Linked DNA regions of Homo sapiens: region 2 is linked to region 1. The links come from fine-mapping of genetic effects on plasma protein levels. A gene starts in region 1. The other region holds a variant in brackets. All regions are shown on one strand. Distances are from middle to middle.

Region 1 (16,058 bases):
CCACTGGAACACTAAGACTGTTTTGGGATCTCTGCCTGACTTTCTCAGAGGTGCTGGTGAGGACATTATGAGTCTGGAACCTAGAAAAGCGTTCTGACTCTGCTGACTTTCTCAGAGGTGCTGGTGAGGACATTATGAGTCTGGAGCCCTAGAAAAGCGTTCTGACTCTGCCACTAGCCAGACAGACCTGGACTAGGCACGTTAACTCTTTGTATGACTTGACTCCAACCCCTCATTTGTAAAACCAGCATTTTCAAGTGGTGTTTTCCACATCAGCCTTTTGCATAAGCTGTCATTTGAAGAAAGGTTTTTGTTTGTTTGTTTTTTGTTTAACAAAAAGGTTAAAAACCACTGGTCTAGATAATTGCAAAGTTTGCTTTCCTTTTTCTGTGCTTTTTCTACTATTTTTAAAATGTCATCCTCCTTGGTTTCTTGATCCCCCTTTCTGCACTCCTGAGTCTGGGAACACTGAGGCCAACTAAAAGGAAACTTGGCAAAAGAGGAACACCTTTGGGTGTGCCAGGCTGCTCCCAGTGTTTTGCACTTATAAAAATTTAAATGCTGCAAACCTCTAAGACTTAGATATTATTGTTCCTATTTTACAAGTGAGGAACCTGAGGCTCAGAGAAGGTGCAGGATGGCACAGGGAGACCTGAATTGGAACCCTGGTTCCCACTTACTGGCTGTCGGGACTTAGAAAAGTCATGAACTCTCATTGATTGTTTTCTTATATGAAATGGGGGCTGCAGGGTTGTCGGGGGAGAAACAATAAGAATGTGCATCAAGTGTCGAGCACGTGCTACGCACTCCATCATGGCAGCTCCTACTAATATACAGAATAGAGTTGTATCTAACATGACTCTTTCTTGCAAGTGACAGAAAATCCAACTTAAGATGGATTAAGCAAAAAAGGGGAATTCTTGTTGAGCTGAAAAGTCTTTAGGCTCACATGATGGCCCCAGGGCCCAGGCCCTGTCCAGCCATGCAGTAGGCATCATCCTTGGGCACAAAGGTGAGATTCTTGTGGTGGCAGATGCTGTGGCAGCTCTTGCTTTGCCAGGAAAGACTGAGGAAGGCCACTGTCCCCATTAAGTGAACAATAGTTGGCCAGGTCTGAGAGGTTGAACTTGGGTCACAGGCCTGTCCCTGAACCCATCACTGATTGGCTCCAACCTGCATCAGCTATTACATGCTAGAGGTGGAGGCAGGACCCCACTCATACCCAGAAGGGCAAAGGGTGGATCCCTCAACAGGATTATGGGATGTAGGGTGATAGACTGCTGGGCAGCCAGAAAGCAAACAGATCCTCTCCAATACCTCAACTGATGAAAGCACCAAGCTAAAATCATAAGGATCTGGGTGTGAATTCTGGCTCTACCATCTTCCATGTGACATTGGGCAGTTATTTAATCTCTTTTAGCCTTGGCTTTCTTACCTGTACTAACATATAAGGTGATTGTGATGAGCATCATCATCGTCAACATCATCATCACCATCCACATTGCCACCACCACTCCCATTATCATCTTCATCAACATCATCACCACCGCCACCATCACCATTATCATTACCACCACCGCTATCACTATTATCATCACCCTCAACATCATCACCATCATCACTATCATCACCACCACCATCATCGTTACTACCACTACCACCACCATCATCACCACAGCCACCACCACCATCACCATCATTACTACTCAGCACCACCATCATCATTCCACCACCATCACCATCATTCCACCATCACCATTATCATTACCACCACCACTGTCACTATTATCATCACCCTCAACATCATCACCACCACCATCATCATTACTACCACCACCACCACCATCACCATCATCATCATTCTACCACCATCACCATTATCATCACCATCACCATCACCACCGCTATCATCATGATAATCATTATCATTACCACCACCATTAGCATTATCATTACCACCACCATCACTATCACTATCACCATCACCACGACCACTACCACCATCACCAACACCATCATTACTACCCACCACCACCATCATCATCATTCCACCACCATCACAATTATTACCACCACCACCATCACCACCACCACCACCATCACTATCATCATCAGTAGACATCATATAACCAGTTTGTAGCTGGCCCAGAGCCTACTTGCTGTTTCTTCTGCCCCACAACCATCCACACATTTCTAACCACCATCCCCCACTAGGCTTCTGCCTCGCCTGGTCTCACCTGCAGGTCCACTGAGAAAATGATTCTCAGAACACTAACTAGACCATGAGGTGCCACAAAACATAACTCAGGCCTGTTCATCAATTTTCTACATGTCAATAATGACATCAGGTCAATTGGCGTTCTCAGCCTCTGAGAGGGAGGTCAAAGTTTTCCTGCTCTCCCCTTCATGTTTCCAGGTGTTCCCTGACTTGGATCAAATGCAGAGTTTGGAGGTGTTGAGGCCAAGGGGATTTTCCAGGTCAGTCGTCATCCACAATCAATGGACTGATCCTGCCGCTGGACTTACCCTGCTGCCCTCTCCCCAAGGCCCCATCAGGGAGGGCTTCAATCCTCTTGTCACCTGTGGCCTACCTGCCCTCAGAGATGACATCTCTATGTCGGCCACTGGATGGCAGCACCTACTCGCAGACCACATCAACTTTCCTGGCAACTTGCGGTAGGTTTTCACCATTATCAGGATGTTTGCCTTGCTCAAATAGCAGATTCTAGAGAACGGTGCTCCCTCACACAACTATGTAGTCCAGGTGATGCACCCTCTGCCCGATGCTTGGTAGTCAGAAACTTCCATCATGCAGCTCTGCCCAGATTGAGCTGAGCTGGCCTCTGGAGTGAGGTGCTGGGACAAACATCTTCCATGCTGCTCATGTCAACTCCAGATGCAGTCAGGTTTCTGAACCAAAGTCAATGATCTAAGTGCAGTCAAAGGCTCTGGGGGAAGAAAGAGAGAGTGCCTCATCTCTTGCCTGTGCCATGCTCGCAAAGCAAGGATTTTTGCAAAATTCTAATGAAAGCTGGGCTTGCAAAATTAGAAAACTGGATTATTTGTGAGAACACTGAAACATCCCTGGGTGTGTCCATCTGGAAAAACAGCATTTCCTCTGGCAATTTTGCAACCGTTCTATTTGAATTTGGCAAAGAAAATAAAGCAGTTTTTCACAAAAGAATAAACACAACCAGGAGAATCTTCACTCTCCCAAATTGTCAAAGAAGTATAAATTAGAAAATGAATCAGGACAATTTCAACCTGTTAGATTAGCTAATATTTAAAAATTGAACACTCATACAAGTGTGGTGAAGTGATTGTTTTCTAGTGACATTTTACACTGTCATAACCTTCTAGAAAATAAATTGGCAGTGTTATTGGGAGACAGAAATATGTCTATATAATTTATGGGAACTTAGGCTCAGAAAATATTAAGGAATAAGAATGAACTTTATGAACAAAGATGTGGAGGGTTGGAAGCAAGAGGGGGGCCAACGCGCACGGGGAGGAAGCATTTGGGCAGTGACTCCGCAGACCCAGGCTCAGGTTGAACTAGACAACCTCCTTACACCTCAGTTTCCTTAACTGTAGAGCAGGAGTGATGGAACTGCCTGTTTCATAGGACTGTTGTGAGGATGAAGTGAGATACACCACATTATAAGCTTGTGCCTGGAAAGGATAATGCTTAGTAAATGATGACTATTCTTTTTTATTGCAATAAAATGTACACAGCGTAAGAGTTACTATTTTAACCATTTTTGCAGGGTACCACCAAGTGGCATTTAGTACATTCACAGTGGTGTGCAACCATCATCATATTTCCAGAATATTTTCCTCATCCCCAAAGGAAACCTCATGCTCATTAATCAGTAGCTCTCCTTTAAAATATTAGTTATGAAGATCATAGCACTATACAAAACTCATTATGTAATGTTGAGTGAAAAAATCAGGGTGTGAAATTTTGTGATATGATGTAATTAGTGAAAGAAGCATACAAAAAGTCTGAAAATATAAAAACAATAGCAATTGCATTTCTCAGACTCTACATTTAAACATTATTCTTTATGGTTTTAAAAGCAAAGAAAAAGGTAAAGAAACAACAACCAACCGCAAAGCACCATGACAAAGCTCAGATTGTTAAATCCAGGTTTTTGGAACATAGACTCTTATATGACGTTTACACTCTCCAGGGTTCAGAGAGTCTGGCAGCATTGGGAGCTGCCTTGTGTTCTACAGCCTCACGGACAGACAGGAGGTCCATCACCACTGCTCTGTTCTTCTGGAGTTTCCTTGTGAACATGTTGTGGACGTAGTTACCATTTCTTTCATCTTTTTAAACACAGGTACCTTTGGGGCTGGCTTTCTCAAGGAAGCCCAGCTCCCTGTGATTGAGAATGAAGTGTGCAATCGCTATGAGTTTCTGAATGGAAGAGTCAAATCCACTGAGCTCTGTGCTGGGCATTTGGCTGGAGGCATTGACAGTTGCAAGGTAAGAAAAGATCAAGAGACCAAAGTTAGTCTTGTGCTCTCCTGTCTCAGTCTCAGTCCCTTAGACTTGAGTCCCAAAGTAGCGAATTCAAGTAGGATTTAATCAATGGAAGACCCCAGTCTAAGTGTTGCTCAGAAACTCCCTAGATCTGTCCCAAATGTATATTCAGATCATCCAAGGGGACTTCTTGGGGCTTGAGTTCCAGATCAGCAGCAAGGGAGCCATAAGTGCCATAACTACCTCAGACCACTCACCCTCCTGGGGTGTCCCGGTGGCCAGGGACTAAAGTGGTGATTTTTCTGGTAGGGAAGGAGGTAGAGGGTACAGGACAGAGACTAACTGCACACAATATCTGAGACTGGAGCTCAGATATTGCTGATGATCAGAGTTGGCGTGTCTCCCCAATTGATTTACAACTGGGGCTTGGATACTGTTTTAAACGGGAGGAGCCTCCTAACCATCTTGACACAACCACTGACGTGACTACACTAGAGATAGACTCTTTCCACTTAATTCTACCACTCTTGCTTTACTTCATGAGAACGAAAATGTAAGATTGCACCATGAATTCATTTGCGGAAAGATTGATACTATGCTTTTATTTTATTTTATTTTATTTTATTTTATTTTATTTTATTTTATTGAGACTCTCACCCCGGTTGAAGTGCACTGACGTGATTTTGGCTCACTGCAACTTCCACCTCCTGGGTTCAAGTGAATACTCCAGCCTCCCTAGTAGCTGGGATTACAGGTGCCCACCACCACGCCTGGCTAATTTTTGTATTTTTAGTAGAGATGGGGTTTCACCACATTGGCCTGGCTGGTCTCAAACTCCTGACCTTGTGATCCACCTGTCTTGGCCTCCCAAAGTGCTGGGATTACAGAGTTGAGCCACCGCACTCGACCCTATGTTTTATTTTTAAAAATATTTATTTATTTATTTAAGCCACAACTACTAGAATAGGAAGGATTGATATTTTATTAATTTTATTTGGTATTTATTATTTTTTTTTCTTTCCTGAGACATTCTTGCTCTGTCACCCAGGCTGGAGTGCAGTGGCACATTCTTGGCTCACTGCAACCTCCATCTCCTGTGTTCAAGCAATTCTAGTGCCTCAGCCTACTTAGTAGCTGGGATGACTGGCATGTGCCTCCACACCCAGCTAATTTTTGTATTTTTTGTAGAGACAGGGTTTTGGCATGTTGCCCAGGCTTGTCTCAAACTCCTGGCCTCAGGTGATCCATCTGCCGTGGCCTCCCAAAATGCTGGGATTATAGGCATGAGCCACCACCCCCTCCTGGAAGGATTGATATCTTATAACATAATTTATAATTACAGAAAACATGTGAGTTCACTAGGAATAAATAAATTTTGAAGATAATAAAAGATTTTCACTTATGTTGTCATTTCGGCACAGTTTGGTATAGGATGTGGAGATGTTAACATTTATACCTAGCTTGCTCGTAAACTAAGACCTGAAAGGGTTGTGTCTATCAGCTGCACCCCTGGGTAGCGACACAACCTCGGGAAGGCCTCAGCCCCCTCCTCGTACAGCACTGCCTGTTGGAAAGCTTGAGGGAGGCTATGGATGTGCAGCACTTGGCAGAGGGTCTGGTCATGGAAGTTACCAGCAAATATGAGCTACTTTTATGATTTTATTTTATCCAAAAGAAAGAGAATGAAAGAAGAGGGGAGGAAACAAGACTAATCAGGAAAGATGAAGGTCTAGGGGTGAGGGAAGGAGTAAGGAGACATAAAGGCAATGTGGAGCAGCTGAGGGGGGAAATGGCTTTCACCACTTCCCAGCATCTATTGACATTGCACTCTCAAATATTTTATAAGACTCTATATTCAAGGTAATGTTTGAACCCTGCTGAGCCAGTGGCATGGGTCTCTGAGAGAATCATTAACTTAATTTGACTATCTGGTTTGTGGGTGCGTTTACTCTCATGTAAGTCAACAATGTCCTGGGATTGGGACACACTTTCTGGGCACTGCTGGCCAGTCCCAAAATGGAACATAAGGAAGTGGTTCTTCTACTTCTTTTATTTCTGAAATCAGGTAAGACATAGTTTTTTTAAATTATAAGAATTATTTTTTCTCCCACAATGTAGTAAAAATACATATGCCATGGCTTTATGTGCAATTCATTTAATTTTTGATTCATGAAATTCCCAGTTCAAAATCTTGTATATGATTGAAAAATTCTTAAAAAAATAAGTTTAATTTCCCCGTGAAGACTGTCACGGTGCTGGAATGAATGGGCAGAAAAAATAATGGTTGATTTTTCTAATCTAAAAGAGTGTGCCTACATGATGGCCAGTCTGGCTGAAAAATAAATAGCCATTGTAGCTAACTATGCAAAGGATGGCTAAGCTCTTCGCTTGGTTCTCAGTTTCATTAATTTATATCATCTCTGTTCAGGTGCCATGCTCCCCTCACTAGCAAGTTGAAACAATGAAATAACTCTTTGAATATGTTTGGTTCCTTGACCTGTTCATGGAGTGGGACTCAGCATTTCTCTCTTTGTTATGGCCTGAGTAAGGCTTTCCATCGGTATACATTTGCTTCTTATCCCTGGAGAAATTATACACATCCATTTGCCAGATGATATACGCATATAATGATTCAACAAATACTCAGGGTATTTGTTGAGTGGGTTAGGTCCCCACATTTTTATACATACATACACACATACACACCGTGTGTGATTGTGAATGTAAGTGTGTGTCCTTTACAAATACTAGCTTATTTAGCTCATGGTATAGGTAGGGTAGCATAGTCATCCCCATTTTATAAACAAAGAAATCTAGACTTAGGAAAATCATGTTATTTGTCTCGTGACCAAATTCCCAAATCAAGGAAATAAAGAAACCTGGATTTAAGCCAGATTTCCAAGAAAAAATCTAGGGCTCTTCTCACTTTTTCATCTTTGTTCCAACATTTGAAAAAATAAATCTAAACACATTCCAATGTAACTGAAGAGCAGGTTAATTGTTTGCCACTTGCAGAATCCAATTAAGAAGAGAGAAGTCTGGTATAAAGAAAGTGATTTGCTTCCAAAGCTAGCTTAGGGGAAGAAATGCAGCAGTCCTGCCGTACTACTTCACTTTAGGAGCAGAAAGTGGCACTTTTAAAAGGCAACAGAGGAGGCGAGCAAGGATTCAGGGGTCCATGCTAGCTTGGGCACCTTATCCACCAGGTAGTTGAGCAGTTGCCTGCTGGTGCCTTTGTGAGCAGGGTGTTGTCCCTTGAGGCAAATCTCTGGAGGGTGAGAGTTTTGTAGTGGGCATGCTTTGGTTTATAAATCACCTGTGAACTCAGGAGTTCCATCTTGAAGCACATACATAGTTAGATGAACTTGCCCTGCAGGGAGAGTCTGATGAAAGGGAGGTAGATGCTTGCAATTTAATCTATAAATTACCAGATAAAATTTTACAAGTTGACTTTAAAGTCAAACACATTTGAATTTAGTGGAAGCCATTCAAGAAAATATCAAAGAAAATACAGAGCAGGAGAAGATTAAGCAAAGAGTTTTTTGGGGAAATTGGTGTCTATGTCTGTGTGTGTAGGGAGTGCAGGGGATATGAATATTCTATTTCAGCCCATGGAAACTAGGATGTAGATCACTGTGAACTTATTCAGCAGGCTACACCCAAAGGCTAGAACAAACTTCTCTGCCACAGGATTAACATATGTTTTAATCGACCTGGGGGGCACATTCTCTGATAAGCTCTTTTGGAAAGCCAGGCTTTCTGTGGACGTGTTATCTTTCCAATGTGTGCTGGAATGCCCGGGGAGAGGAAAAAGTTTCTTTTACAGCCATGCTCAGTGAGAAGCGGAGAAACATCTTCTATTCACAAATTGCTAAGTCTTTTACACATGCAAATATGCATACACATTCACACACCACAGTGAGGAAGAAATTCTCACACCATTAATAAAATACATTTACTTCAGTAGCAATATACATCTACATTTTGCCTATAATATAAAAGTATTTTTCCTATTAAAAGATTTGTTTAATGTTTCTTCACCAACAAATAAACCCTATTAAATCCCCATTGCCATATGAGCCCTGGAGGTGAATCAGAGAAACAAAAGGATTGTGGAAAAATCATCAGGTTAAAAAAAGAAAAATTGATTCTGTTTTGGGATATTTCCTAGCAACATGAGCTGGGGAGGGGATCTCAGCAGTGATGCTCTATGAAGCATAATAAAATGACACAGTTACAGGTAACTTAGTTAAAGGGGGAAATAAATGGAAGTTTCCTCTTTTTGAATATCAATTGTAGCCTGCTCTGCTACATTTCAAAAACACTCTTCAAAATGTTTAACTGAACTCACTGTAGGAAGCACCTTATTAATTTATTGTGTGTTTTGAAGTCACACTGTGAGCTATAGAATTTACCCAAGCACAACTCTTCCTGGAAAAGAGAGTTCAAATGAGAAACAGTGCGGGGTGAAGACATGGATATGGGCCTAAAATATCTATTTCTCAATGATATTTTGATATATCTATCAAGTGCTTTTTAGTGGATTAGGTTCAGAATGCATCAGCCAATGCCTGTTCAATAATCCAGTTTTCCAGCATAGAGCATATTAAATTGAGGAAGGACAAAGTCACAGAGGTGGGGAGCAGGTGGACTGTGGCCAAGGACTTTGCATGAAACAGTGAGCGTGCATCCTCCTCCTTGCCCTGCCCTCATGGTCTGTGTACTCTCAGGAGGTCAGGACAGGCCTTTCTGAGAATGAGAATCTGTTCATCTGCCTTTCTACTGGATACTTGTCATCGGCATACAAACACATGTTCTCTGCAGTGTGTCATCTTTCAGAACCTCCCCTGACCCTGTATTCCCTAGAAGTCTCGCTGCTTTCAGAGCCAGGCTTCTCTCCTGCTGCCACCCCCACTGCTCTTCTAGTCACTCTTTAACCCACTCCATCTGCATGTGGCCCCCACCACACCCCTCAAAGTGGTCAAGGTTGTCCTGTTGCTTAATTCCATGGAAGCTTGGCTATCTTCATTTTATTAGCCTCTTTTGGCCTCTCACCCTGTGAAAATCACTACATTTTGTGCCAGAGATGGAGCTGGCATCTCCAGGCTTGGAAGAGGGCTGCTGAAGCTCAGCCAGGTGTCCTAAGGAGCCTCAGGACAGGGGATGCTCAGTAGCCTTGCAATGGGAACACAGCTGAGCCCCACTTGGCCACCCTTTGCCACAACCAGGCAGAAAGCAGCTTTTGAACAGATTTGTTGCCTCAGATTTGATCTCAAAGAAAAATCGTGGGCAGTATTGGTCCCAGGTTCTGCTTTTTTACAATTTCCTCTGAAATCTGGATGCCTATCAACACCTTGGAAAAACTGAATTCTCCCCAACTAATAGTGGTGTGTCACTGTAGTAAGCCTAGTACAAAAATGGCCTTCTTTGTGGAGGAGCTTCATATCCTCCATTTTTTTTTTGCTTAATTTTTGCCCAAGATGAGAACATAATTTAGTTCACTTTTTATTTATTCCCAACATCATCCATGCACCAACATTTTTGTAACTAAAGGAGGGACCATTCAGAAGATGCTTATCAACTGTCAAAGTGACAGTGTTACAACCAATGCACATATTGTAAGAAATCAAACAATGGCCTCCAAGGTTCATTTCTACACAGGGATTAGCAGATCAACATCAATCTTGGCAACACAGTTGCCACTGATGGTGTCTTATTTTTTTTATCATGACATGGCAATCAAGAGCAAACATGATTTATTCTTATTTAAGATTTTATGGTTAGACTAGGCAGATAGCTAGATATGAGCAGGAGGTGGAAGCCCCTGAGAGAATGGAGGTCTGGAGAATCTGAAACCCCAGAGATTACCCAAGTCCTGCATGCTAGACATGAGTGGAGGAGGGGGAATACCTAGGTAGAAAAGAATGCCCCTTAAGATGCCCAGCAGTCGCTCACTGTGCAGTTAACTTTTCAGAATGCTGCTAGATACATGCTGATAGGGAGGGAAGAGGGCAAAGGAGAAATTCCTAAGAGATACACGGTTGCAGTTAGTATACATCTGAGTGCTATACAACCTTCTTTGGGTGGTGGCAAGAAGCAATGCAGCCATTACGTAGAATTCATATCAAACACCTGTATCACAGGTGTTAAAGAAACAAGAAACATTGTACTTCTTGTATTCTTAATAATGATTTGCAATATTGTCTTTAGTATCACTGCAAACCTCTATAAATATGATTTTTAAAAAGTATTTCTTTAGGTTGGAATTACTTCTACGCATTGACTTATCTTCCTGGGTTTCATTAGCCGTACCCGTTGTACTTTCTTCCTTACCACTGTTTATCTCAAACTCTTGAGATTAAAGTATGGGCTCAGGAGGGAGCGAGGAGCTTCAGGACTCTCACGGACCTCCAGCACAGTGTAGCTGCCTTATGGAAAAGTGGCCACACTGTTTTCTGCACTGGTCCCTGCCCCTACTATTCCTCACTGGGCAGAGCACAGCCACCCTGGCCCTGCCTGAACATTTTAGTCAGTGTTGGCTCTGTGCTTCTCTGGGGAGGAAATCCAAGAGACAACCCACAGCCCCTCTGCCATTTCAGCTGCAGCAGTACCACCGTTAATGCCCTTGGGCTTGAGAAAGAAGGGACCTGGCCACTTCCCTGACACCTCCAGCACACAGCAGGGAAAGAATTCCAGTTTCTCTTTCTTGTGAGCTTTCACCTGCTACTCTTCACCAGGCAAGGCTCCTGGCTTGGGCCCACAGTGCAGGCACCTCGAACTCAGTTGAACATTTCCACTGGCTGCACTCTGTGTTTTTGTGGGGTGAAGCTCCCAGAGGTGACTGAAAGTCCTTCTGCCACTAACACTGCAGTCATACTGCCCTTGCTGTACTTGGACTAGGGAAGGAAAAAAGATCCTGAGTGCTTTACTCACACCCCAGTGTGCCCCAGCCACCCTATGGAAAAGAGGCCAGTGTGTCATCCCTGCAAGCACCCTGAGGCCCCTGCCCCTGCTGCCCCCAAGCTGTAGAGCCAGAATATAAAGCTGGCAGAAAAATGTAAAAAGGCTAGACTGGCTTAGCCTCCCAGCCTACATCTTTCTCCTGTGCTGGATCCTTCCTGCTCTTGAACATCGGACTCCAAGTTCTTCAGCTGTGGGACTTGGACTGTCTTCCTTGCTCCTCAGATTGCAGGTGGCCTATTATGGGACCTTGTAATCTTGTGAGTTAATACCACTTAATAAGCTCCCCTTTGTGTGAGTATATCTATATCTATAGATAGATATAGGTATACTCACTATATATACACATATATACATATACTCTCTCTCTCTCTCTCTCATATATATATATATATAATCTCCTATTAGTTCTGTCCCTCTAGAGAACCCCGACTAATACAGATTTTCATACCAGAAGTGGTTCTTGAGGAACAGAATATTAAGGATGGAATTCTTTCATTGGTTTTGGGACTTCTGGTGTTGGCTGATTAATATGATTAGACCAAAAAATGCTAAGGACTCTACTTCTAATAGTATGGAGAACACTGATAGTACTTGGCCTGAATTGTTTAGAGAGTTATGCAAAATAAATGCATTTGACACTACTGATTCATCACTTATGAGAGGCAAGGAGTTTAGTGACTCTATACATAATACCTTTGACTATATGTGGAGAACCAAGGAACATAATGAAGTTGGTTGATTGCTCCTAAGTTCTCTGGAGAAAGAGATGAAAGAAAATGATGATCTCAGGGGATCTGTCTCCCACCTTCAGAAGCAGATACTGAGCCACAAATCTGCTAAGATTGCCCTGAATGAGAGTTTTAACTCCTGTAGAGAAAGAGTTGAAATTGTGAAAAAACAGAGACAAGCTGTTATCATGCGAGTAGCTGATCTGCAACAAGAGGTGCATGCACAGCCTTGCCAGGTGTTTACTGTTAAAGTGAGGGCATTGACTGGAAAAAAATGGGACCCTGGAACTTGGAGTGGGGATGTGTGGGAGAACCCTGATGAAGCTGAGGACACTGAGTTTGTGAACTCTGATGAAACTTTTTTGCCAGAAGAAACAGTTTCCCCATCCCCAGTAGTGGTAACATCCCCTCCCTGACCCGTGCTGCCATTAGCCTTTCCACCTTTGTCTGAGGATGTAAACCCTGCACTGCTTGAGGCAACAGTGATGGCCTTCCCTGAGGCAGCTGCCAGGCAAGATAATGTTGATTCTCCTCAAGAGGCACCCCTAATGCCCCTGAATGCTTCTAGACCTATAACTAGGCTAAATTCCTTGCGGGCCCCAGAGGTGAGGTTCAGAGTGTGACCCATGAGGAGGTGCATTATACTCTAAAAGAACTGCTTAAGCTTTCTAATTTATATTGGCAGAAATCTGGAGAACAGGCATGGGAATGGATATTAAGGGTAAGGGATAATGGTGGAAGGGACATAGAGTTGGATCAAGCTGAATTTATTGGTTTGGCCCTACTAAGTAGGGATTCTGCATTTAATGTTGCAGCTCGGGGACTTAGAAAAGGTTCTGATAGGGCCGGGAGCAGTGGCTCACGCCTGTAATCCCAGCACCTTGGGAGGCGGGGGCGGGCAGATCACGAGATCAGGAGATTGAGACAATTCTGGCTAAAATGGTGAAACCCCATCTCTGCTAAAAATACAAAAATTAGCTGGGCATGGTGATGCGTAACTGTAATCTCATCTACTTGGGAGGCTGAGGCAAGAGAACTGCTTGAACCTGTGAGGCAGAGATTGCAGTGAGCCAAGATCGCCCCACTGCATTCCAGCCTGGTAACAGAGCAAGACTCCATTTCCAAAAAAAAAAAAAAAAAAGTTATAATAGTTTATTTGCTTGGTTAGCTGAAATATGGATTAAAAGATGGTCCAATGTTAGTGAGCTGGAAATGCCTTGGTTTAATGTAGAGGAAGTGATCCAAAGGCTTAGGGAGATTAGGATGGTGGAGTGGATTAGTCACTTTAGACCTACTCATCCCAGCTGGGAGGGTCCAGAAGATACACCCTTGGCCGAAGCTTTGTGAAATAGATTTGTGAGAGCAGCACCTGTATTTTTGAAGAGCCCGTAATTGCTCTTCTCTGTATGTCAGATCTAACAGTAGGAACCACAGTCACTCAACTACAAAATTTAAATACAATGGGAATAATTGGATCCTGAGGTGGCAGGGGCCAAGTGTTGGCACTGAACCATCAAAGGCAAGGTGGGCATAACTACCATAATAGACAGCAGAGGCAAAGCAGCCATCAGAATAGTCTGACTCATGTAGAGCTCTGGCATTGGCTAATTAATCATGGTGTTCCTAGAAGTGAAATTGATGGGAAACCTACTGTATTCCTACTTGATTTATATAAACAAAAAACTGCCAGGTAGAATGGACTAAAGACTAATCTGAATTATAAAAACAGAGAATCATGGGCCCTCAATCAATTTCCAGACTCGAACCTGTTACAGTTCCAGAACCCACTGAATGAAGGGGAGGCTGGATCCCCTTGAGGAAGGACACCACTAGGCTACTGACAACTTATGCTGTTACTCTTTCTCCCATCCTTCCCTAAGGAGACCTCTGGCCTTTTACCAGGGTAACTGTGTGTACTGGAGAAAGGGAAGTAATGAGACATTTCAGAAAGTACTGGACACTGGCTCTGAGCTGACGTTGATTCCAGGGTACCCAAAACGTTATTGTGGTTCCCCAGTTAAAGTAGGGGCTTATGGAGGTTAGGTAATTAATGGAGTTTTAGCTCATTTCTGACTTACAGTGGTTCCAGTGGGTCCCTGGACTTATCCTCTGGTCATTTTCCCAGTGCCAAAATGCATAATTTGTATAGACATACTTATTAGCTGGCAGAAATGCCACATTGGCTCCCTGACTGGTAGGATGAGGGCTATTATGGTGGGAAAGGCCAAACAGAAGCCATTAGAGCTGTCTCTACCTAGAAAAATAAAAAAATCAAAAACAATATCCCATCCCTGGAGGGACTGAAGTGATTAGTGTCACCATCAAGGACTTGAAAGACGCAGGGGTGGTGATTCCCACCACATCCCTGTTCAACTCTCCCATTTGACCTGTGCAGAGGACAGATGGATCTTGGAAAATGATGGTGGATTATTTTAAGCTTAACCAAGTGGTGACTCCAATTGCAGCTGCTCTACCAGTTGTGGTTTTGTTGCTTGAGCAAATTAACACATCTCCTGGTGCCTGGTATGCAGCCATTGGCTTGGCAAGTGGCTTTTTCTCCATTCCTGTCCATAAGACCCACCAGAAGCAATTTGCCTTCAGCTGACAAGGCCAGCATTATACCTTTACCACCCTACCTCAGGGGTGTATCAACTCTCCAGCTTTGTGTCATAATCTTATTTGGAGAGACCTTGCTCGCTTTTCACTTCCACGAGATATAACACTGGTCCATTACATTCATGACATTATGATGATTGGATACAGTGAGCAAGAAGTAGCAAACACACTGAACTTATTGGTGAGACATTTGTATGCCAGAGGATGGGAAATAAATCCAGCTAAAATTTAGGGACTTTCTACCTCGGTAAAATTTCTAGGGTTCCAGTGGCATGAGACCTATGGAGATATTCCTTCTAAGGTGAAGCATAACTTGCTGCGTTTGGCCCCTCTTACAACCAAGAAAGAGGCACAATGCCTGGTGGGCCTATTTGGATTTTGGAGGCAACACATTCCTCGTTTGGGTGTGTTACTCTGGCCCATTTATCGAGTGACCTGAAAGGCTGCCAGATTTAAGTGCAGTCTAGAACAAAAGAAGGCTCTGAAACAGGTCCAGGCTGCTGTGAAAGCTGCTCTGCCATTTGGGCCACATGACCCCGCAGATCCAATGGTGCTTGAGGTGTCAGTGGCAGATAGGGATGCTGTTTGGAGCCTTTGGCAGGCCCCCATAGGTGAATCACAGTGGAGACCTCTAGGATTTTGGAGCAAGGCCCTGCCACTTCTGCAGATAACTACTCTCCTTTTGAGAGACAGCTATTGGTCTGTTATTGGGCTTTGGTGGTAACTGAACGTTTGACTGTGGGTCATAAAGTCACCATGCTACCTGAACCTGCCTATCATGAACTGGTTGCTTTCTGACCCATCTAGCCATGAAGTGGGTCAGCACAGCGGCATTTCATCATCAAATTGAAGTGGTGTGTATGTGATCGGGCTTGAGCAGGTCCTGAAGGCACAAGTAAGTTACATAAGGAAGTGGCTCAAATGCCCATGTTCTCCACTCATGCCACCCTGCCTTCCCTCCCCCAGCCTGCACCAATGGCCTCATGGGGAGTTCCCTATGATCAGTTGACAGAGGAAGGGAAGACTAAGGACTGGTTCATAGATGGTTCTGCACGATATGCAGGCACCACCCGAAAGTGGACAGCTGCAGCACTATATCCACTTTCTAAATGCATGTGTACACTTGTGCTAAGAAAATATCTTTATTTTATTTCCTTTATTTTTCCTTTATCATGTGACCTTAGATTTATGGACTTCACATCAGCATTTAAGCATTTAAGTGTTGTTCATATCAGCATTTAAATATTGTTAACCTTATGTAA
Region 2 (16,058 bases), 74 kb after region 1:
TACCGAACTACCGAGTACACATTAAAGTGTGCATGGAGCATTCACTGAGGTGTACTCTACACATGACCTTCCAGCAAGTCTCCATAGATTTAAAAGAATTAAAGTCATACAGAGTGTGTCACTTTATTCTCCCAGAATAAAGTGAGATATGAATAATGAGAAGTTTGCCAGCTTCTCAAATATTTGGGAGTCATACGGTGCATTTCAAAATACTCTTTGGGACAAAGAAAACATCACTAAGGAATTTAGAAAAGTTTTGAACTGAGTAAGAATATAACACAATTTATCCAAACTTAGGAGATGCAGTGAATGTCTTTAGGCTTTTACATAATTTTAGATGCTCTTAGGGAAAAACAGAAGCATGTAATAATCAAGATTTCAAACTGCAATTCTCAAAGTGTAGTCTAGAGAAACCTGAGGACCTTTGAGTACCTTCAGAGACAGTCCATGAGGTTAAAGGACTTTGCTACGTGAAAAGTAAGATGCTATTGGCCCTTTTTACTTTCATTTTCCAACAAGAGAAGAGGGGAGTTTTCCAGCAGTTACATAATATGTAATGGCATCATGTCTCTGATGGCTAAGAAAATGGGCAATTGTTGACTTTGTGTGTTAAAAAAATTCTCAGTGTTGGTTTCTTATACTATAAATATTCATCTTGTGTTTTGAAAAAGAAAAGCTCTTTGGAATCCCCTATGAACAAAGACTTTGACAGTTGTTGATCTAAGACCACAGCTTAAATATCTACACAAGAAAAAAAAAAAAAGCAAATAAGAGCCAAGGAAAGCAGATGGAAGGAAGTAGTCCAAACCAGTGACATTCAGTGAACAAGAAAAGAGACCAACAAGGGAGTAAACTCTTGAAACAGAAAGTTGATTCTTTGAAAAGATCCATATGATTGAACACAGTCTGGCTAAACAAATGACAGACCAATGAGGGTGCACAACCATCACCATCTGGAGTAACAGAGGAGAGGTGCCATTACTATAGCATCTTCCAGTTCTGAAAGCTGAAAAGAAGATTTTGAGAACAATTGTATGTGAATAAATTCAGGAATGTTAATCATGTGGGCCAATTCCTGAGGAAGACAACAAATCAGCAAACCAGATGCTGAATAGTTAGTGTAGTCCTGTAGAGAGACATACAGAGAGGCTGACAGAGAAATATTTGTATGTGCATAAAACAATCTACAAGACACACTTCAAAATCAATCTCAGTTAATCTGGAGGAACATATTTCACAGAAGGTGGAAGGAGGGTATTCTGATCCTCTTGTACATTGTACAACATTGTACAATGTACAGAGTATAATTGTACAAGTACAATTGAAGTTGTACAAGTACAAGTGCAACTTGCACAATGTACAGAGTAAACATTGATGTTTACTCTCAATTTTCTTATGGAGCACAGATGACTTTGGATGTGTTACAATATGAATGATAATTTGTCTTTGAGATGTTCGCAGTTGTTTAGAAGTTGAGGACCATTTGTGCATATTATGGGACCTTTAGTGAAAATATTTCAAAGTCTCTTTTTACACTTTGTTACAGCAAAATGTAGAGGGCGCTAAGTGCCCTTGAATCTTCTCCCATCTCTGGTGACCTGTGTTGTTTTGAAATTTGCAGTGGCCTGACCAGGAACTACTGCAGGAATCCAGATGCTGAGATTCGCCCTTGGTGTTACACCATGGATCCCAGTGTCAGGTGGGAGTACTGCAACCTGACACAATGCCTGGTGACAGAATCAAGTGTCCTTGCAACTCTCACGGTGGTCCCAGATCCAAGCACAGAGGCTTCTTCTGAAGAAGGTAGGAAGTCTATGGCCAGACAACCACACCCTAGGACGTTGGGATGAAAAGAGTTGCAAAATCTTAGTGATATAGAAGCCTTCCATGCTCACACAATTCCAAGTAGAATGTGGACTCAGGGTCAGCCACTGGGAAGGAACACTCAGCGCCTTCTCTGGGAGAACCAGAGCTGTGATGTTTGGTACCCTGTGAAAGGGTGGTATCTATAGGAAGGGTGCAGACCCTCTAGGGCACTGGACTTACCACTCCCCTGGTTATTCAAAGGATCATTTTAGTGTCTTAGCCAGAAGAATATTCTAACATTTTGCCAAATTTGTGAAGATTTACCAAGCTCATGATAAGCCTTTCATGGTATTTCTTCAAGTAGTCAGTGTTCATTGCATCTTTGGCTTTGCGGTTTCGGAGGAATGCGGTTTTTGAGTCTGTCATCCTTGAGAAACCTAATATGACTTTTCTTAGTTCCATATACTTCTGGGTCCAGGTAGCAGTACATAGCCAACAAATGCTCCATCGTTCTGGCCTATCTCCATCTTAAGCCAGTCCTGCACAACTAGGCTTTGATGGGAGGGATCTCTCAGTGTTCTTGCCCCTCCTTCTCATGGAACATATATCTGTGTTGGTCTCTGAGAAGAAGAGTAGTGGATATCTACTTTGTTGCAATGCAGAATCCTGGGCCAAAGATACCAGCCATCCCTCCAAGGGAATAAAATTTTGGCCAGTAGCCCTCTCTGAGAGACAATTTGTCTTTGCCTACGAGTCCTAGATGCAGGACCGCTTCCTGCCCCATCTTCAAGAAGCTGAAGGCTTTGGCTTTGGAGGATCAGCAGTCTAGGGAAATGTGTGACGGTTTCATGTCTGTCCCCACTGACAGTCAATCACCACCTACAACCTGCACAGCCTGATGCATAGCAGTCTAGTTTCCTGCCTTATTCTCAGGAACACCCAGAAGATGTCTATATTAAAGAGCATGCACATGAGTGCAATTTTGACTGATAGGCACTCTGATCTTTCCTTTGGTGCCTGTGTTTTAAAGGAAATCTTTCTAAGAACTCGTTAAAGTTCTAGAATGCTATGAATCTTTGGGTTTTATTATTGGTATGTCCATCTGCCTGCTAGTACAGAACAGAGCATGGTAGTCTTTCTCAGAGACAATGATCCTGTTTCAGTCACAGATTTCTTCTGATGCTTCTGTGTTCTAGAAATTACTCAGCTTGATTTCTCCTCTTTGAATTTCAGCACCAACGGAGCAAAGCCCCGGGGTCCAGGATTGCTACCATGGTGATGGACAGAGTTATCGAGGCTCATTCTCTACCACTGTCACAGGAAGGACATGTCAGTCTTGGTCCTCTATGACACCACACTGGCATCAGAGGACAACAGAATATTATCCAAATGGGTACAACCTTGAGTTTTCTTCAAAGACAGACAGCAGCCCCCTTACATTTCTCTTGGAAGGGCCATGCTTCCAACTAACTTCTTATGACAAATTTATCTCAGATCTGGAATGTTGGGTAGAATGTCTCAGGCTTCTTTCTTCAGGCACAGTGTCTGAAAGGAGAGAAATGTCAGGCCAGCTCTCTTTTCTCATAGTTGACAGAAGCAGGAGGATATTTGAAGGTGGTGAGTTCTCATGAATAGAAAGCTCAGGACACATGGCCACGTGCTTAGAAATAGCACCATTCCACAATGCCCACTAAAGACCAATGCAATAGTTCAACCAGGGATTTCTGTCATTCTAATCTCCAAGTCCTGAAGTGAAGGTTGTATTAGCCATGTTCATCTTGGGCAACAAATAAAGGATATCTATGTTGACATCCAGATCTTCCAATCACTTTCTCCTCTAACCTGTACCTGGGTTCTGAGAACAAGGTATCTGAAGAGCTATGTGTTGCCAGCACATGAGGGGCAAAAGTAGGAAGGCAGCTGAGAGTCAGGAAGTATAAAGATTCTGAAGAGTTACACATGCAGGAAGATGGACAGAAACCCAGTTCAGACCACGTCAGCGTTTCTGCCATGAAGGACTATCAAATACATAGGAAAAGTGTTTTCATAGGTTGGACAACAGACATGACAGGCCTGAGAAAATTCAGAAAGGGAATCAAAGGAGATCAACCTTATCATGTCCCTGGCATCCTTCCTTGAGACCCTTGAAGGGCAAGCAGATGGAGCCCAGCTGACCACAGCAGTCTTGCTTAACTGAGGAGAGAGACTGGAGTTTGTGATGCCTCAGGCATCTGACGTATTCTAGGCTGGCTAAGAATGAGAGGGGATTTGTGGAGGAAAGGAGCTCCAAGAATACACACCGAAGTCTTCTCAAGGCTTTGGCTAAATACAAAGCTGCGTATGCACAAGGAGAGTTTTCACAAAGAAAGAACAATAAAGAAAAGCTACTGGGGAAAGAACAACTGCAAGGGAACAGTGAGCTCAATGGAGATGCTAGAGCTCACATAGCACTGGGGGATATTTGAGTTCTGACCACTCAGAGGAGAGACACCTCACTGAACATCTTGGGCATTCAGTAGAGGTCAAAGAAAGCCATAATTTGGGAGTAGGATCTTCGGATTCCTAGAAATAAGGTGACTCCAGAAACACTCCAGCAACCCTTCTTCCAAGCCAGTCTAAAAGGATCCAAATGATTTCCAAGTAAATTAACTGCCTTCCAGAAAAAAGTAAACTCAACCCTCCTTAGAGGTAAGGAACGAATACAAGTTTCTCAGTTATATGACATCCCCAGAGTGCAACTTGCATTTAAAAATTTACTAGACACAAAAGAAGTTTTCACTGTGATCCATAACTGGGAGAAAAATCACTCAACACAAATAGGCCCAGAAATAATAGAAATTATGGCATTGGCAAGAACATTTAAAATGCACCTCTGAGAACTGTGTTTCAGGAAAATGTCAGCAAAAGCTGACCATGAGAGAAATGAATGCATAATATCAGAAAAGAAAAGAATTGAAGAGCCAAATGGAAATTTAAAAACTGAGAAAAGTTATATCTGTAATGAGGAATTCACTGGATGGCCTTATAACCAGTTTAGATATTATGGTAGGAAAAGGTGAACGAGAAAATGATTCAATTAAAGCTAGACAAACCACAAGACAGACAGACAGACACAAATACACATACACACAATGACTGAACCAATTAATCAACAGAGCCTCAAGGACATCTAGGAAAACATCCACACATTTAATATATGTGTTAGGCAAGTCACAGAAAGAGAGGAAAAAGATAATGTGACAGAAGTTATACTTGAAGCCATGACGGCTGACAAATTTCCAAACATACAGAAAATGAGAAATTCATAGTCATGAAGCTCAATGACTCAGGTATAGATTTTTAAAGAGCAAAACTCTGATTTACTGGGGTACATCATAGTTAAATTGTCTGATTTCAAAGCTAAGAAGAAAAAAAGGGGGTTCCTATGAACAAACATTTTGACAGTTGATCTAAGACCACAGCTTAAATATCTAGGCAAGGAAAAGCAAATAAGACACAAGGAAAGGGGATGGATGGAAATAGTCCAAACCAATGACATTCAGTGAACAAGAAAATAGACCAACAAAGGAGTAAATCCATGAAACAGAAAGTTGGTTCTTTGAAAAGATTCATGTGATTGACCACAGTCTGGCTGAACAGATGACAGACCAAGGAGGGAGTACAACCATCACCATTTGAAGTAACAGGGGAGAGGAGCCATTGCTATACCATACTCCAGGTCTGAAAGCTGACAAGAAGATATCAAGAAAAACTGTATGTGAATAAATTCATGAATGTAGATCATGTGGATCAATTCCTTAGGTAAACAACAAATCAGCAAACCAGATACTGAATAGATTGGGTACTCCTATAGAAAGACATACAGATAGCCAGACAGAGAAACATTTGTACGTGCATAAAACAATCTACAAGACTCACTTCAAAATCTCTCAGTTAATCCAAAGTAACATATTTGGCAGAAGGTGGAAGGAGGGTATTCTGATCCTTTCTTGTACACATTGATGTTTTCTCTCGGTTTTCTTATGGAGTATAGACGAGTTTGGATGTGTTACAATAAGAATGATAATCTGTCTTTGAAATGTTCACAGTTGTTTAGAAGTTGAGGACGATTTGTGATTGTTACAGGACCTTTAGTGAGAATATTTCAAAGTCACTTTTTACCACTTTGTTACAACAAAATGTAGAGGATGTCTGGTGCCCTTGTATCTTCTCCCATCTCTGGTGAACTGTATTGTTTTGTAATTTGCAGTGGCCTGACCAGGAACTACTGCAGGAATCCAGATGCTGAGATTAGTCCTTGGTGTTATACCATGGATCCCAATGTCAGATGGGAGTACTGCAACCTGACACAATGTCCAGTGACAGAATCAAGTGTCCTTGCGACGTCCACGGCTGTTTCTGAACAAGGTAAGAAGTCTCTGGCCAGACAACCACACCCTTGGACGTTGGGATAAAAAGAGTTGCAAAATCTTAGTGATACAGAAGCCTTCCATGCTGCACGGGAATCTGAATGTGGACTCAGGGTCAGCCAATGGGAAGGAAGCCTCAGCGCCTTCTCTGGGGGAACCAGGGCTGAGATTTTTGGCACCCCGTGACAGGGTGGTGTCTTTAGGAAGCGTGCAGACCTTCTAGGGCACTGGATTTACCACTCCCCTGGTTATTCAATAGATTATTTCAGTGTCCTAGTGAAAATGGATATTCTAACATCCTGCCAAATTTGTGATGATTTACCAAGCTCATCATGAGCCTTTCCTGGTATTTCTTCAAGTAGACAGTACTCATTGCAAACTTCAGCTTTACAGTTTCAGAGGAATGTGGTTTTTGAGTCTGTCATCCTTGAGAAACCTGATATGACTTTACTTAGTTCCATATCCTCCTGGGTCTAGGTAACAGTACATAGCCAGCAAATGCTCTATCTCCCTGTCTACCTTAATCTTAGGCAGGTGCTGCACACCTAGGCTTTGATGGAAGGGATTTCTTAGTGTTCTTGCCCCTCCTTCTCATGGAACACGTATCTGTGTTGCTGTTTGTGAAGAAGAGTAGTGGATGTCTACTTTGTTGCAATGCAGGATCCTGGGCCCAAGATTTCCCGCCGTCCCTCCAAGGGAATAAAATTTTGGCCAGTACCCCTCTCTGAGAGACAATGTGTCTTTGCCTGGAAGTCCTAGATGGAGGACCACTTCCTGCCCCATCTTCCAGAAACTTAAGGCTTTGGCTTTGGAGGATCAGTGCTCTGGAGAAATGTGTGACGGTTTCATGTCTGCCCCCACTGACAACCACCACCTACAGCCTGCACCGCCTGATGCATGGCACTCTGGTCTCCTGCCTTGTTCTCAGGAACACCCAAAAGAGATCTTTGCCAAAGAACAGGCACATGAGTGCAATTTTGACTGATAGGCACTCTGATCTGTCCTTTGGTGCCCAGGTTTTAAAGAAAATCTTTCTAAAAACTCATTGAAGTTCCAGAATGCTATGAATCTTTGAGCTTTGTTATTGGCATGTCCATCTGCCTACTAATGTAGAACAGAGCATGGTCGTCATTTTCAGAGATGATGTCCTGTTTCTATCATGGATTTTTTTTCTCATGCTTCTGTGTTCTGGAAATTACTCAGTTTGTTTTCTCCTCTTTGAATTTCAGCACCAACGGAGCAAAGCCCCACAGTCCAGGACTGCTACCATGGTGATGGACAGAGTTATCGAGGCTCATTCTCCACCACTGTTACAGGAAGGACATGTCAGTCTTGGTCCTCTATGACACCACACTGGCATCAGAGAACCACAGAATACTACCCAAATGGGTATGTCTTTGAGTTTTCTCCCAAGAGAAACAGCCACCCACTTAAATTTCTCCTGGAAGAGCCATGCTTCCAGCTAACTTCTTATGACCCAATTTCTCTCAGACCCAGAATGTTGGACAGAATGTCTCAGGCTTCTTGCTTTGGGCACAGGGTCTGAGAGGAGAGAAATGTCAGGCCAGCTCTCTTTTCTCATAGTTGATAGAAGTAGGAGGATACTTGGAGGTGGTGAGGTCTCATGAATAGAAAGCTCAGAAGAACATATGACCATGTGCTTAGAAATAGCACCATTCCACAATGCCCACTAAAGACCAGTGAAATAGTTCAACCAGGGAATTCTGTCATTCTAATCTCCAAGCCCTGGAGTGAAGGTTGTGTTTGCCATGTTTGTCTTGGGTAACAAGTGAAGGATATCTATATTGACTTCGAGATCTTCC[G/A]ATCACTTTCTCCTCTAACCTGTATAAACACATTGGGTTCTGAGAACAAGGTGTCTGAAAAGCTATGTGTTGCCAGCCCATGAGGGGCAAAAGGAGGAAGGCAGCTGAGAGTCAGGAAGTATAGAGATGCTGAAGAGTTACACATTCAGGAAGATGGACAGAAACCCATGTCTGGCTATGCCAGCCTTTCTGCCATGAAGGACTATCAAATACATGAGAAAACAGTTTTCACAGGTTGGACAACAGATATGGTAGGCTTGAGAGAACTGAGAAAGGGAATCAAAGGAGATCAACTTCATCATTAACCTGTCTTCCTTCCTGGACACAGTGTTGGATTGAAGGACAAGCAGATGGAGCCCAGCTGACCACAGCAGTCTTGCTTAACTGAGGAGAGAGACTGGAGTCTGCGATGCCTCAGGCAGCTGATGTGTTCTAGGCTGGCTAAGAATGAGAAGGGATTTGTGGAAGAAAGGAGCTCCAGGAATACACACAGAAGTCTCCTCAAGGCTTTGGCTAAATACAAAGCTGCGTATGCACAGGGAGAGTTTTCATAAAGAAAGAACAACAAAGAAAAGCTACTTGGGAAAGAACAACTGCAGGGGAACAGTAAGCTCAATGGAGATGCCAGAGCTCACATAGCACTGGGGGATATTTGAATTCTGACCACTCAGAGGAGAAACACCTCACTACATTTTGGGCATTCAGTAGAGACCAAAGAAAGCTGTATTTTGGGATTGGGATCATCTTATTCCTAGAATCAAGGTGACTCCAGAAAAACTCCAACAACCCTTCTTCCAAGCCAGTCTAAAAGGATCCAAATGATCTCCAAGTAAATTAACTGCATTCCACAAGAAAAAAAAAACTCAACCCCCCTTAGAGGCAAGGGACAAATACAAGTTGCTCAGTTATATGGCATTCCTATTGCGTTACTTCTATTTAAAAATTTAATAGAGACACAAGAAGCTTTCACTGTGATACATAACTGGGAGAAAAAATCACTCAACACAAACAGGCCCAGAAATTATAGAATTGATGACATTGGTGAGAACATTTAAAATGCACCTCTGAGAACTGTGTTTCAGGAAAATGTCAGCAAAAGCTGACCATGAGAGAAACAAAAGCAGAATAGCAAGAGAAAAGAAAAGAACCGGAGAGCCAAATGAAAATTAAAGAACTGAGAAAAGGTACATCTCTAATGAAGAACTCACTGGATGGCCTTATCATCACTTTAGACATTACGGTAGGAAAGGTGACCTAGAAAATAATTCAATAGGAGCTACACAAATCACAGGACAGACAGACAGACCAACAGACAGAAACACACACACACACACACACACACACACACACACACACACACACACACAAAGACTGAACCTATTAATCAACAGAGCCTCAAGGGCATCTAGGAAAAATCCACACATTTAATATATGTGTTAGGCAAGTCACAGAAGGAGAAGAAAAAGATATCATGACAGACATTATACTTGAAGCGATGATGGCTCGCAACACGCCAAATATACAGAAAACAAGAAACTCATAGTCAAGAAGCTAAATGACTCAGGTATAGAATTTTAAAGAGCAAAACTCTATGATTTACTGGGATATATCATAGTTAAGTTGCCTCAATTCAAAGCTAAAAAGAAAAAAAGGGGGTTCCTATGAACAACAGCTTTGACAGCTGTTGATCTAAGACCACAGCTTAAATATCTAGGCAAGGAAAAGCAAATAAGGCACAAGGAAAGAGGATGGAAGGAAATAGTCCAAACCAATGACATTCAGTGGAAAAGAAAATAGACCAACAAAGGAGTAAATCCATGAAACAGAAAGTTAGGTTCTTTGAAAAGTCTATATGATTGGCCAAAGTCTGGCTAAACAGATGACAGACCAAGGAGGGAGCATATCCATCACCATCATGAGTAACAGGAGAGAGATGCCATTGCTATAGCATCCTCCAGGTGTGAAAGCTGAGAAGTAGATATTGAGATCAACTGTATGTAAATAAATTCATGAATGTAGATCATGTGGATGGATTGCTTAGGTAAATAACAAATCAGCAAATCAAACACTGAATAGATCATGCAGTTTTATAGAGACTTACAGACAGCCTGACAGATAAACATTTGTATGTACGTGAAACAATCTCCAAGACACACTTCAAAATCCCTCTCGGTTAATCCAAAGGAATGTATTTGGCAGAAGGTAGAAGGAGGGTATTCTGATCCTTTCTGGTACACATTGATGTTTTCTCTCAGTTTTCTTATAAAGCATAGATTACTTTGAATGTGTTACAATAAGAATCATAAGCTGTCTTTGAAATGTTGACAGTTGTTTAGAAGTTGAGGACCATTTGTGAGTGTTATGGGACTTTAGTGAGAATATTTCAAATTTGCTTGTTTACACTTTGTTACAAGAAAACATAGAGGGTGCCAGGTGGTGCTGTATCTTCTCCAATCTCTGGTGACCTGTATTGTTTTGGAATTTGCAGTGGCCTGACCAGGAACTACTGCAGGAATCCAGATGCTGAGATTCGCCCTTGGTGTTATACCATGGATCCCAGTGTCAGATGGGAGTACTGCAACCTGACGCAATGTCCAGTGATGGAATCAACTCTCCTCACAACTCCCACGGTGGTCCCAGTTCCAAGCACAGAGCTTCCTTCTGAAGAAGGTAAGAAGCCTGCAGTCAGACAACCATACCCTCGGACATTGGGATAAAAAGATTTGCAAAATCTTTGTGATGCAGAAAACTTCCATGCTGCACAGGAAGTCGAAGGTGAAGTCATGGACAGCCAATGGGAAGGAAGCTTCAGTGCCTTCTCTGGGGGGACCAGAGCTGGGATGTTGAGTGCCTTGTGAGGGATGGTGTCTTTAAAAGGGGCACAGACCCTCTAGGACACTGGATTTATCACTTCCCTGTTATCAAACGAATCATATTAGTGTCCTAGCCAAGATGGATATTCTAACATCCTGCCAAACTTGTGAAGATATACCAAGCTCCTAAGCCTGTCCAGCCCTTTCTTCAAGTAGGCAGTGTTTATTGCAGTCTTCAGCTTTACCATTTTGAAGGAATGCCATTTTTGAGGCTGTTGTTCTTGAGAAACCTAACATGTCTTCATTAGATCCGTATTGTCCTGAGACTTTGAAGCAGTACATAGCCACCAAATTGTTTATCTCCCCAGCCTACCTTCATCTTGGGCATGCCTTCCACACCTAGGATTTGAGGGAAGGGATTTCTCAGTGTTCTCATCCCTGCTTCTCATGGAACATTTATCTCCGTTGTTTTTTGAGAAGAAGAGTAGTGGATGTCAGCTTTCTTGTAATGAGGGATCCTGGGCCCAAGATTCCCTGTCTCCCCTCCTAGGCTATAAAATTTTGGCCTGTACTCCTTCTCCCTGAGAGGCAATGTGTCTTTACCTACAAGTCCTAGATGCAAGATCCTTTTCTGCCCCACACCCCAGAATCTGAAGGCTTTTGCTTTGGAGGAGCAGTGGTCTAGTGTGCAAGGGTTTCATGTATACCCCCCACTAACAGCCAATCACCACCTATAGCCTGAACAGCTTGATGCATGGCACCCTGGTCTCCTGCCTTGTTCTCATGAACACCCAGAAGAGGTGTAAGCAAAAGACCATTCACATGAGTGTAATTTTGAAGTATAGGCACTCTGATCTGTTTTTTGTTTGTTTCTTTGTTTGTTTGTTTTCCAGGGTTGAATTAAAATATTTATGACTACTTATTAAATTTCTAGAATCCTATAAGTCTATTTGTATTTTTATTCTACATTTCAATTTGCATGCTAATATAGAAGAGTGTAAATTGTTAATCCTCAGATTATTCCACTTTGTGTGTCATAATTTTTTTCACATTTCCCTTTTCTAGGCAATACTGAGCTTGATTTTCTCTTTTAATTTCAGCACCAACTGAAAACAGCACTGGGGTCCAGGACTGCTACCGAGGTGATGGACAGAGTTATCGAGGCACACTCTCCACCACTATCACAGGAAGAACATGTCAGTCTTGGTCGTCTATGACACCACATTGGCATCGGAGGATCCCATTATACTATCCAAATGCGTATGTCTATCATGTTAGCCATAAAAGGAACAATAGTCAACTAAAATTTCTCTTAGCTGGCCCATGCTACAAGCTCACTTCCTAGGTCCAAATTTCTCATAGACTCAGAGTTTGTAGCAAAATGTCTCAGGAAACTTACTTTTGAGCAAAAGGTCTGAATGAAGAGAAGTTTTAGGATTGCTATCTTTCATAACAATTTGATGGAAGCAGCAGGATATATGGAGGTGGTGAAGTCTCATTAATGTAAAGCTAAGGAGATCAAATGACCAAATGCTGAGACAAAGTATCATTCCACAATGCCCACTAAAGGTCCATGCAGTCTTTCAACCATGCAATTCTATCATTCTATCCTCCATTCCCTGAAGTGAAATTTGTGTTTGCCATTTTTGACACGAATCAGAAGTAACAAATTCAGGCTGGGTGCAGTGGCTCAGGCCTGTGATCCCAACACTTTGGGAGGACAAGACGGGCAGATCACCAGAGGTCAGGAGTTCAAGACCAGCCTGGCTAACATGGCAAAACCCCATCTCTACGAAAAATTAAAAAATTAGCCGGTCATGGTGGTGGGTACCTGTAATTCCAACTACTTGGGAGGCTGAGGCAGGAGAAACACTTGAGCCTGGGATTCAGAGTTTGCTGTGAGCCGAGAACATGCCACTGCACTCCAGCCTGGGTGACAGAGCAAGACTCAATCTCAAAAAAAAAAAAAAAGAAGAAGAAGAAGAAAAGAAGAAGAGGAAGAAGAAGAAGAGGAAGAAGAAGAAGAAGAAGAAGAGGAAGAGGAAGAGGAGGAGGAGGAGGAGGAGGAAGAAGAAGAAGAAGAAGAAGAAGAAGAAGAAGAAGAAGAAGAAGAAGAAGAAGAAGAAGAAGAAGAAAATAGAAATGAGTGCATATATTTATATATGAGTACTAGCCTGTATGAACACACTGGGTTCTAAGCACCAGTTTTCTGAAGGGATATGGGTTGTCAGGCAGAGTAAAAGCAGGAATGCAGATGAGAGTCAGGAAGTAAACAGATGTGGTGATTAAAATGGGCAGGTACATGGACAAAAAAATGCATGTCTGACAAAAACTGGCCTCTTGCCATAAGTGAGTATGAATAATATGGAAAAACTGTTTGCACATGTTGAACAGCAGACAGTACAACCTGAGATAGTTTAGAAAGGGAAACAAATAAGATCAACCCCATAATTACCCTTCCTAGACTTAAGGGCAAAGAGTTTTAACCAAAGCATTCCACAGCAGTCTTGCTAAACTGGGGAGAGAGACTGGAGTTTTGTTTACTAATAAAACCGAGATTTTCTAGGTTAGGTAATAATGAGAAAGTATTTGTGGAGAAAAGGAGCTCCAGGAATACACACAGAAGTCTCTTCAAGTCTCTGGCTGAACAGAAAGCTGTGTATGCACAGAAAGAGTTTCCAGAGAGAAAGGAGAACAAAGAACAGCTACTGGGGAAAGAACAACTGCTGGGGAACAGTGAGCTCAATGAAGATGCCAGAGCTCACATAGCACTGGGAGGTATTTGAGCTCTGACCAGCCTGAGGAGAGACACTTCATTGAACATCTTGGGCATTCAGCAAAGACCCCAAAAAACCATACTTCAGGAGTAGAATTAATGCATTCCTAGAATAAAGTCTACTCCAGAAACACCCTAGAAAAGCTTAGAAACCAAGTCTAAAAAGATCCAAATGATCTCCAAGTAAATTAATTGCCTGTCAGAAGAAAACAACCTCTTCAGAGGTAAACAACAAAATTAAATTGCTCAATTATATAGTATGCACAATGTGTGGCATACATTTAAAAATTTGCTAAACATACAAAAAGCATTTAGTGTGACCCATAACCAGGAGAAAAATCAGTCAATACAAATAGACCCAAAAATGATAAAAATAACAGAATTGGCAAGGAGATTTAAAATGTATGTATCATAATTGTGTTCAAGGATTTAAAGAAAGCGTGGACAAGAAATAAATAAATGGATAATATCAACAGAAAGAAAAATTGTAAAAGGACCAAATGGAGAGTCAAGAACTGAAAAAAAAGACATCTCTTTAATGAGAAAATCACTACATGGCCTTATAATCATATTAGATAGTACAGATGATAAAGCTAACTAGAAAATATTAGGGTGGTGCAAACCATAGCACGCTTATACAAAGCCTGAGAAGATAAACAGAGCCTCAAGGACATCTATGAAAATATCAAAATATTTAATATTTGTTTAAAGCAAGTCACAGAGGAAGGGAAAGAGATATTGGAACAGAAAAAATACTTGAAGCAGTGATGGCTGATGACTTTCTAAATATGGAAAAAATGATAAACTCACATAGTCAAGAAGCTCAATGGATCAGATATAGGATTTTAAAAAGTAAAGCTGTATGATTTATTTGGACACATCATAATTAAATTGTCCATAATCAAAGATAGAAAGTAAAATCTTATTTGAAGCCCAAGGGAAAAAACATACCTTTACATAGAGTAACAGTGACACAAATGACTGATGCCTTCTCATCAGAAACAACACAAATCAGAAACAATAGAATAACACCTTTAGAGTGGTAAGAAGAAAAAAAGATCAAATCAGAAACAACAAAATAACACGTTTAGAGTGGTAAGGAGGAAAACAAGATCAAATCAGAAACAATGGAATAACACCTTTAGAGTGTAAGAAAGAAAAAAAGATCAAATCAGGAACAACAGAATAACGCCTTCAGAGTGGTAAGAAGGAAAACAAGATAAAATCAGAAACAATGAAATAACACCTTTAGAGTAGTAAGAAGAAGAAAAGATCAGGTCAGAAAAAATGGAATAATATGCTAAGAAGAAAAAAAAAGATCAAGTCAGAAACAATGGAATAACACCTTTAGAGTGAAAAGAAGGAAAAAAACCCAGCAAGCTTAAACGCTATGCACAGCAAACAATTCCACTGAAAATGAATGTTACGTAAGTACATATTCTGTCCTCCTAAAAACAAAGAACAAATAAAAGAATGTTTCATCAGCAGGATTATGTAATAAAAGATGTGAAAGAATGCTATGTAAGTAGAAGAAAAATAATACCATATGGGAATTGGCATCAAAACCACAAAATACTATCAAAACAAAAAAACTTTATTGATAAATTTAACACAATATGCAAAAGAACTATACCATGTATACTACATAACATTGGTGAGAAGAAAATTAGAAGATCTAAATAAAGACACATCATGCTTATAGATTAAAAAATCCAATGTCACTTTTCACAAAACTGATCTTTAGTTTCAACCCACACCCAAGCAGAATTCCTGCAGTCTTTTCTTGAAAACCTAACAGAATGTATATGCTAGAATCACCAAGACAATCTTTAAAAAGAATAAAAAACTTGGAATAAAATCACAAGTTTGTGGGATAGATGCATATGGTAATATGGAAATTCTCATAAAGACACAGTAATCAAGACATGTGGTATTGGCTGGGACGCTTGGCTGTAATCCTAACACTTTGGGAGGCCAAGATGAGAGGATTGCCTGAGATGAGGAGTTGCAGACAAGCCTGGGCAACATAGCAAGACCCTCATCTCTACAAATATTTAAAAAAATTAGCCAGGTTTGGTGCCATGTGCCTGTAGTCCCAGCTATTCAGGAAGCTGAGGTGGGAGGATCACTGGAGCCCATGAGGTGGAGGCTGAAATGAGCCATGATTGTGCTACTGAACTTTAGCCTGGGAGACAGATTAAAACCTTCCCTCTCTCTCTCAAACAAACAAACAAAAAATACATAGTATTGGGCAAAACATATGCAAACAAAAACAGAAAAGGGTCAGCATAAATTTACATATATGGTCAATTTATTTTCAATACAGGTAGCAAAGCAATTTAATGAGGAAATTTTTTTCCAAAATTGGTCTGAAACAACTGGATAGCCATAGAAAAAAACTATAACAAATGTGACGCTTGAATCCTACTGT

Direction of the effects. Alleles are on the strand shown, and positions count from the first base shown. The strength of an association depends on the size of the effect and on how common the allele is.
As copies of A replace G in region 2, the plasma level of the protein whose gene starts at base 6,445 in region 1 goes up (moderate association).

The links. PIP is the chance, under the fine-mapping model, that this variant and not a neighbour inherited with it causes the effect. The UK Biobank Pharma Proteomics Project read protein levels with antibody pairs (Olink). The fine-mapping took linkage between variants from a reference panel, not from the people measured, so its PIPs are less certain.
Region 2: its variant is fine-mapped to the plasma level of the LPA protein (UK Biobank, PIP above 0.99).

The regions. Positions count from the first base shown.
Region 1 is chr6:160,654,662-160,670,719 of GRCh38, reverse strand. LPA (lipoprotein(a)) reads left to right here and starts at 6,445. Exons shown (of 39, transcript NM_005577.4): 1 at 6,445-6,554. The coding sequence starts at 6,506.
Region 2 is chr6:160,581,099-160,597,156 of GRCh38, reverse strand. LPA (lipoprotein(a)) reads left to right here. Exons shown (of 39, transcript NM_005577.4): 21 at 1,622-1,803; 22 at 3,040-3,199; 23 at 6,056-6,213; 24 at 7,445-7,604; 25 at 10,527-10,708; 26 at 11,952-12,111. Among named protein-coding and RNA genes, the nearest start is that of LPA, 75 kb to the left of the region's middle. The variant G/A (reference allele first, on the strand shown) is at 8,039.